Homo sapiens: one gene and its partner. The protein of the gene in region 2 interacts with the protein of the main gene of each other region in a pairwise test. Each region holds a gene or a part of one and is shown on either strand. Other genes may lie near its edges. The genes, in order: RANBP10 and CNTNAP4.

Region 1 (3,820 bases), 8.8 Mb from region 2:
CAAAAAAAAAAAAAAAAAAAAAAAAAAGAAAAGGATGGAGTTTTCTGCTTGCTTAGTTCAAAAAAAAAAAAAAACAGAAAAGGATGGAGTTTTCTGCTTGCTTAGTTCAGGGCATATCCTCACCTCCAGCCATCCCGCACCTGTACTCCAGTCTCTATTATGAGTCATCACAGGCCTAATCACATGCAGGGCCTCCACCCAGGATGCTGGGAGCCTGGCCTGGCTCTGTGTGTTCTGGTTAGGTTCTGGAAGGAAGGAAGGTTTGCTGACTCTGGTGGCTGCTTTGGGATCCCAAACACCCCAGTGATGCCCCAGGAAATGCCTTTGTGATCTTATGGGCCTCTGAAGCCCAGACCATAGCACCCAGGGTCCTGTTAAAACCTCCAGTCCATGGCTCAGAATCCTTCCCTCTTACCTGGAAGCCCCAGAGAGGGGCTGTGGTCCTAGGCAAAGAGAACAGAATCAGGTGGAGAATGCTGACCCTGGCTAGGGAAGGGTCTAGTTATGGGGACGTGACATGAAATGACCAGGCATGAGCATGGCCAGTATGCAGCCACATGCAAGAAGGTATGGGGGAAAGACATGGTAGGCAGTGACGGTCAGGAAGGCTTGCTGGAGGAGGCGGGCCTTGCCTGTGGTGGAGGATGGTAGGGGAAAGAAAGGAAGCGAGAGGTCCTCTGTGTGCAGAGCCCATGGTGGGCTGAAGCCAGCATACAGGAAAAGGTCCCATACCTTGTGCAGGTACAAAAATGCATGGTTGGCCAGGCGCGCTGGCTCACGCTTGTGATCCTAGCACTTTGGGAGGCTGAGGTGGGCAGATCACCTGAGGTTGGGAGTTCAAGACCAGCCTGACCAACATGGAGAAACCCCATCTCTGCTAAAAATACAAAATTAGCCGGGCGTGGTGGCGCATGCCTGTAATCCCAGCTACTCAGGAGGCTGAGGCAAGAGAATTGCTTGAACCCAGGAGGTAGAAGTTGCGGTGAGCTGAAATCGCGCCATTGCACTCCAGCCTGGGCAACAAGAGCGAAACTCCGTCTCAAAAAAAAAAAAGTGCATGATACTCAGGAAGGAACATGGCCTGAGCACGGAGGTGAAGGGTGGACTGAGGGCCCTGGGAAGACCATCTGCAGTGACAGTGGGGAGGAGGCTAGCGAGGCTCTGGACAGTTGCAGTGGGGAGCCACAGGAACCACCAAGTGAGGGAGGGACCGAACAAAAGCCAGTCATGGTAGAGGCTAGGTGGAAAGCAGGGAGCCTCACACCCTACTGGCCAGAAGATCCTCTTAGCGAGCCTCTAACAGGAAGGGTAGCTTCTCTTCACCCTTTGCCAGCACCAGGGGTCTAGACCACCGGTTCCCTTTTGCCATGTTCCCCTCCTCCCTCCTTTCCTGCGTCATCCCATCTCTGCCTACCCCCCATGTATCTATCTTTTGGTTTGTTTTTTTTTTTTCTTTCTGAGACAGGGACTCACTCTTGTCACCAAGGCTGGGTTGCAGTGGCAGAATCACAGCTTACTGCAGCCTCAATTTCCTGGACTCAAGCCATCTTCCCACCTCAGCCTCCCGAGTAGCTGGGACCACAGGTGCATACCACCACACCTGGCTAATTTTTATCTTTTTATTTTTTGTAGAGACAGGGTCTCACTTTGTTGCCCAGACTGGTCTTGAAAACCTGGGCTCAAGCGATCCTCCTAAATTGGCCTCCCAAAGTGCTGGGATTACAGGCATGAGCCACTGTGCCCAGCCTCATGTGTCTTATTTTTTTTGAGACAGAGAGATCCTTGGCCCTGGATCTTTCCAAGAGGAGCCATGACCCACTATTGCAGCAGACCTTCATGGGCACGTCTGAAGGGTCGTGGAGCCCAGCCCATTTCTGTATGCTTTGGCTGAGTTCCAGAAAGGGCTCTTGGGCCTTGAGGACACAATGGCCTCTGATACAGGGCAGGACACTCTCCATGATGTGCCTTGCTTGCTTTTCTTTTGCTTTCTCCCCTCAAGCTTTGGGGCATAATGTCTCTGCTAGGGAGGTGGACAGAGGTGGCTCCGCCCTGCCTCCTCCAGCCTTGCTGCAACTCTCCCAGCCCAAGCATGGGCCAGCAGCAGCCATGGAGGTGAGGTGAGGCCTTAGAACCCCACTGCCCTCAGGGCCTGACTGACATTTCATTCTCCTCCTCAGGCCAACCTCTACCCCACCGTAGGCCTGCAGACACCTGGGGAGATTGTGGACGCCAACTTTGGGCAGCAGCCCTTCCTGTTTGACATTGAGGACTACATGCGGGAGTGGCGTGCCAAGGTCCAGGGCACGGTCCACTGCTTCCCCATCAGTGCCCGGCTTGGCGAGTGGCAGGCAGTGCTGCAGAAGTGAGTGCCCTGCTCCTGCCCTTACCCACTCCCACCCCACCCCAGCCCACTTCACTCTAGGCCCCTGTAGGGCTACAAGCTGTTCTTACAAATTCCAGCGGGTGGATCCTTTCTGGGAAGCATTCCCAGGGCCATTCAGCCTGCAGCTCTCCTGCTTCTCTGTCGTCGGATGGACAGCTCCCACCGAGTTCTCCGGGCTGCTCCTAATTAAACCTTTGCCTCTCAGCCATATTGGAGGCTCCTGTATATAAGATCACCAGCAGGGCTGTTTTCCTTCCCCAGGTCATTTTGCAGAGGATTTTGCAGAGGATGCCCTGTGGTCTCTTCCTCTGTGGACCCTTTTTCTACCATAGGGAGTATCCATGGTGCTGTGACTCTGGCCTGAGGCCACCTCACAGGGCCCAGCATCCAACTGAGTCTCATTCGTCTATAGCGGTGGTGGAGGGAAGGGAGTTCTCCCTAGGACCAGCTGAGCTAGCTCCTTGGCTGATTAATTCCCAGACTGTCCTGGAAGCCAGTGTCGCTGAACTCCCAAGGGAGGCCAGCTTTGGGTTTCTCTTCCACTTGCCATCTGCAAGCCTGAGTGAGGCAGTGACCAGTATCCACTCTGCCAGGAGGTGGGTGTTAGCTTGGCTCTCAAGGATGGGCAGATGGGCATGGGGAAGGGCTGGGCTTCCACTGCCTGTGGTCATTGCCCTGCAAAGGCACCAGGGTGCTAGGATTCCTGGGGTGGGGTTGGGGTACACACTGAGTTCTTTGTGCAGCCTTTGTCCCTTGAGGCAGGCCCCAAGGATGGGCTGAGGCAGGGGCTAGGTGGCCAGACCTTCCCCAGGAAAAACAGCATTGCTGCCTCTTGTTCACAGCCCCCCAGAGCAGATGACAAGGACTTCCTTGGATGGCCAGGACAGCGCCACTCCCAGAGCAGGCTTGGTGGGATTGCCAAGAAGAGGGGTGAAGATGCCAAGTCTGTGTAGGGGAGGAACTGATACTCTCAGTTTTCAGGGCCTAGGCTCAGCACATGGATGTGTTTTTGTTTTGGGGTTTTTAAAAAAATACTGAGATGGGGTCGCACTTTGTTGCCCAGGTTGGACTCCTGGGCTCAAGTGATCCTCCCACCTCAGCCTCCTGAGTAGCTGGCATCACAGGCATGTGCTACCATGTCCAGCATAGCACATAGGTGTTTTTGTTTACATGTGTGTATCCATGTGCTTGTATGTGTTCATATGTAGCATTTGCCAAGACCTGCATATAATTTGTGTACTGTGGTTTTACATAACTTCATTTAATGAATATTGATAATGGCTATGTTATCACAGAGACAAATTTGTCACAAGCCTTTTGGCTGGCTTCCTCTAGTGGAAGGTCAGGTAATTCCTTCTCTTTTACTTGTGTAGGTAACCCTCTTGTAGATAAAGACTTTTTCATATTTACCCTTGTGTTTATAATAATAATATGGTG
Region 2 (3,820 bases):
GAGCATCAACACTAGGTAGAAAAAAGCAGATTGAGCAACTAACACTTTATAATACATAAAGGTGACTATTAATGGATTTACCATCAACAAACACTAGTTTTTCATAAATGAGTCAAATATTTAAGTAATGAAATATGATGCGCTCCATCTTTGAATATATGATGCTGTCTCATCACCAGGATCTTGTACTCATTCTTTACATTCAACAGATACTTTGCCAAAGCAATTCAGAAATTGAATTTTTTTTGTTTCAAATAGCTGCATAGAAAAGAACTGCCAGACATTTAATCCACATTGAATAAATTTTCCTCTTACAGTCTTCCATGCCACACTTACCATTTGAGCAGAATGGCCCTGTGTATGCAGAGAAAGTGCAGTCACAAAAGAACCCAATGGGTCTTTCTCTGCATTTCCCTCCATTGCGGCATAACTTCCCATAGCTGCTGCAATGTCCCCTACAACCTGGCTGCACTTCTGGAGTCACCTGGGCTCTTTCTTCCAAATCCAGGGTCATCCCATTCAACTGCAGAGACCGAATGCAGCCCAGAAAGCCTCTCTGTCTGGTGGCCGTTCCACCTAAAAGGGAAATACTGCAAATGGAAACATGTTCCTAGGTGTTTTATTCAGGGTTTAAAGACCAAACAAAACTGAGGCCTTACAGAGAACGGCAAAAAAAATGGATGAGCAAATATAATTTTGGAAACACAATTCATGGTCAAATATAGACTCCAAGAAAGATACAACTTTAATTCAATTTTTTTAAAAGTTGAATATGTTACATTTTTTTTCTAAAAAATATTTATTGATCTTTAAATTGAGGAATAAAATAGAGGTCATACACTACTCTCATTGAAAATAACAGTGACATGTATCGTTATTTTAATGTAGAAACTACTTTCTGGGAATTTGAATAAGTATATATTGCTGGGTAAGTGTGGTTTGTCCTTCATATTTAAACCTGATCTTGATTCTGGTACAGTTTTAACTTTGTGAGAATTATGAAGGAGTCCTTGAGATCTTCTGATGGTGCATTGATATGGTCCTTTGGTTGTTATCCATTCATTGAAAAGATGGTAATTGAATGTCAGATTATTTGTTTTTGGCTGACATATTTCCCAGTGATTGTTTTTCTAAAGATTAGTCTAGTGTTCAGTGTTTTATGCTTGGAAAGATTCTTAACAAAATTGCAAAAGGGGATCGATACAGAAATAAGTGATGTAACGGTAACGTTTATTGAATACATAACCATATGTACCTATCAAGTCATCCTTGAAGAGGTCTACAATGTTGGGTTGGAATCAGACCCTATTATTCTAAGGTAGAGTTTCTCAAACTTTAAGAAATATGGGTAACACATAATCACACGGAGAGCTTCTAATAAATAGACTCGGTAGCTTGCTCCAAGAAATACTGGTTCTGTGGTCCAAAAATAGGGTTGTGAATCTCAACAGTTAACAAAGCTTGCAGGAGATTCTAATTCAGATGATCACTAGACCATCATTGTATAAGCACTACCCTGATAGAAGTGTAAGCCCTGGGTAGATTCATACATAAATTTGTGTCCAGGAATACTCTTAAGTTAATGCTCAGAACTTGAAGCGGGAAAAGAGTACCCTAACCTAAATAACCTGGCAATTCTATTGAGAGGCAATTAGATGGTTATGAGGCCTCTAAAAAGAAGCTCCATCTTTGGATAAATGATGGTGTCTCATCACCAGGACCTTGTATGTACTCTTTACATATAAATTCTCTTTTCCTAAAACATGTTCACTTCGTTTCTTCCAAATCATTTAGGTAGCTCCTTAACCTAGCCTTCATTCAACAAGGGCTACTTCAATTGCTACTGTATATCCAGCACAAAGAACAGTGGTAGACAAATAATTTCTGTGTTATAACTATGAAATCCATCCATTCATTTGTTAAACCACAATATACATAGAAATGGGAGAAATGGGCATAGTGCTTCAAGGGTAAAGGGGGACCCCTTTTGCCCCACAGAGATGCTTGGGTCTCTGAGACTGAGAATGAGGCCCGAATTTAATGAACATTTCTAATAAACTAATTATCTCTTTGCAAATAATGAAAGACTATGAAAAGGAACCTCTAAGAATTCCTGAGAATTCTGGACTTACGGACACTAACACTATTCAGAATTCAGATTCATAGCTATAACTATATCCAAATTGCTGTATTTAAATGTCTATTCAAAATGTTTCCATTTACATACTTGGTTTCTCCTCAGTGAAGGATGCCAAGGTCTTAAGGGTGTTGGCTGTTCTATTTATAAATCTATTTATAAATCTAGAGAGTGTCAACATATTGCCATTGTCACAAGTGGGCATGGTAGGCATGGAGTTAATTTCATCACAGAGTTTTGGAATGCCTGGAAATCTTCTTGTTTAATTCCTCCTACATTTACATTTACTTCTGCCATTTTTTTTTTAAGATTTTTAATATGGGTGCCCAATTGAGTTGTTTATTCCTTTTTGTTGTTCTGTTGTAAAAATTAATAGACACATAATAATTGTTCATATTTATGGGGTACATAATGTTGTGATATACATGATATTAGTGATCAGATCAGAGTAGTTAGCATCACCATCACCTCAAACATTTATCATTTTTTAGTGTTGGGAACATTCAATATCTTCCTAGTTATTTGAAACTACATATTATTGTAAACTATAGTCATTCTACAGTGGCATACAACACTAGAACTTTTTCCTCCTGTCTAGCTGTAATAGTATATCCTTTAACAAATCTCTGTGCCCCTTCCCTGTACCCTCCCCATCTTCTAGTATCCTCTGTTCTACTTTTTACTTATGAGATCACCCTTTCCTTAGCTTCCTTATATGAGTGATACCATGCTGTGTTTAACTTTCTGTTCCTGGTTTATTTCACTAAACATAATGCCCTTCAGTTCCATCCATGTTGCTGTGAGTGACAGGATTTTATTCTTTTTTATGCCTGAATTGTATTCCATTACATATATACACCACTTTTTTTTTATCGATTCATTTGTTATTGGACAACTGGGTTGATTCCACATCTTGGCTATTGTCAATAGTGTTGCAATAAACTTAGGGGTGCAGCTGTCTTTTCAATACACTGATTTTCTTTTCTTTGGATAAATGCCCATTATTGAGATTGCTGGATCACATTGTAGTTCTATTTGTAGTTTTTTGAGGACCTGCCGTTCTTGAAGTCTCTCTTCTGCCCTTATCCTCAGGATTTTTCTTTTTCTTCCTTACCAGAGCTGCTACTTCTTTATCTTCACACCTCCCTATTCTTCCACTCTGTTGACTCAACTCAGTGAGCTCCCAGGGCTCAAAGTCTTTGGCCAGGATTCTTTTGGCGTCCTTGTTGGATATTTCTTCCCTGGGTAAGGTCCAGCTCACATCTTGGTTTTCACTTTGGCACAGGAACTTTTTGCAGGGGGGCCACATTCTGTGAACTCTGAATTAAAGGTGTGCTCTTGGTGTATTTAATTTACTTTGTATTATCCCACATTAAATCATGGTATACAGTCTACAGTATACAGTAACATTAAATCACATTGTTATACATTTGCTGCTCTGAAACATGCACAGTCTCCCTAACTCACAGGCTTATCTCATTCTGCCAGTAACAACGTAACTAAATAACTTGGGGTCCAACAACTGACTAAAGTCCATTTCCAGCTGTTCTGATTTTTTTGTGTTTGTTTAGTTTGTTTTGGATGATGGGAAACTAGGGGCATAGAGAATTTCAAAGATTGGTCCACAGGTCCATCTGAGGAAATACTAGAATAAACACATTTCGTTAGAGGCAGAGGCAGGAT

Evidence for each region.
Region 1: the proteins of CNTNAP4 (region 2) and RANBP10 interact in a two-hybrid assay, tested with the Homo sapiens proteins (one study listed by BioGRID and IntAct).

What each region holds. Positions count from the first base shown.
Region 1 is NC_000016.10:67,733,400-67,737,219, reverse strand, and holds part of RANBP10 (ran-binding protein 10), read left to right. Parts: intron 1-2,177; coding exon 2,178-2,362; intron 2,363-2,420; exon of another isoform or gene 2,421-2,671; coding exon of another isoform or gene 2,672-2,979; intron 2,980-3,820. UniProt on the Homo sapiens protein: May act as an adapter protein to couple membrane receptors to intracellular signaling pathways.
Region 2 is NC_000016.10:76,532,301-76,536,120, reverse strand, and holds part of CNTNAP4 (contactin-associated protein-like 4 isoform 1 precursor), read right to left. Parts: intron 577-3,820; coding exon 337-576; intron 1-336. UniProt on the Homo sapiens protein: Presynaptic protein involved in both dopaminergic synaptic transmission and GABAergic system, thereby participating in the structural maturation of inhibitory interneuron synapses.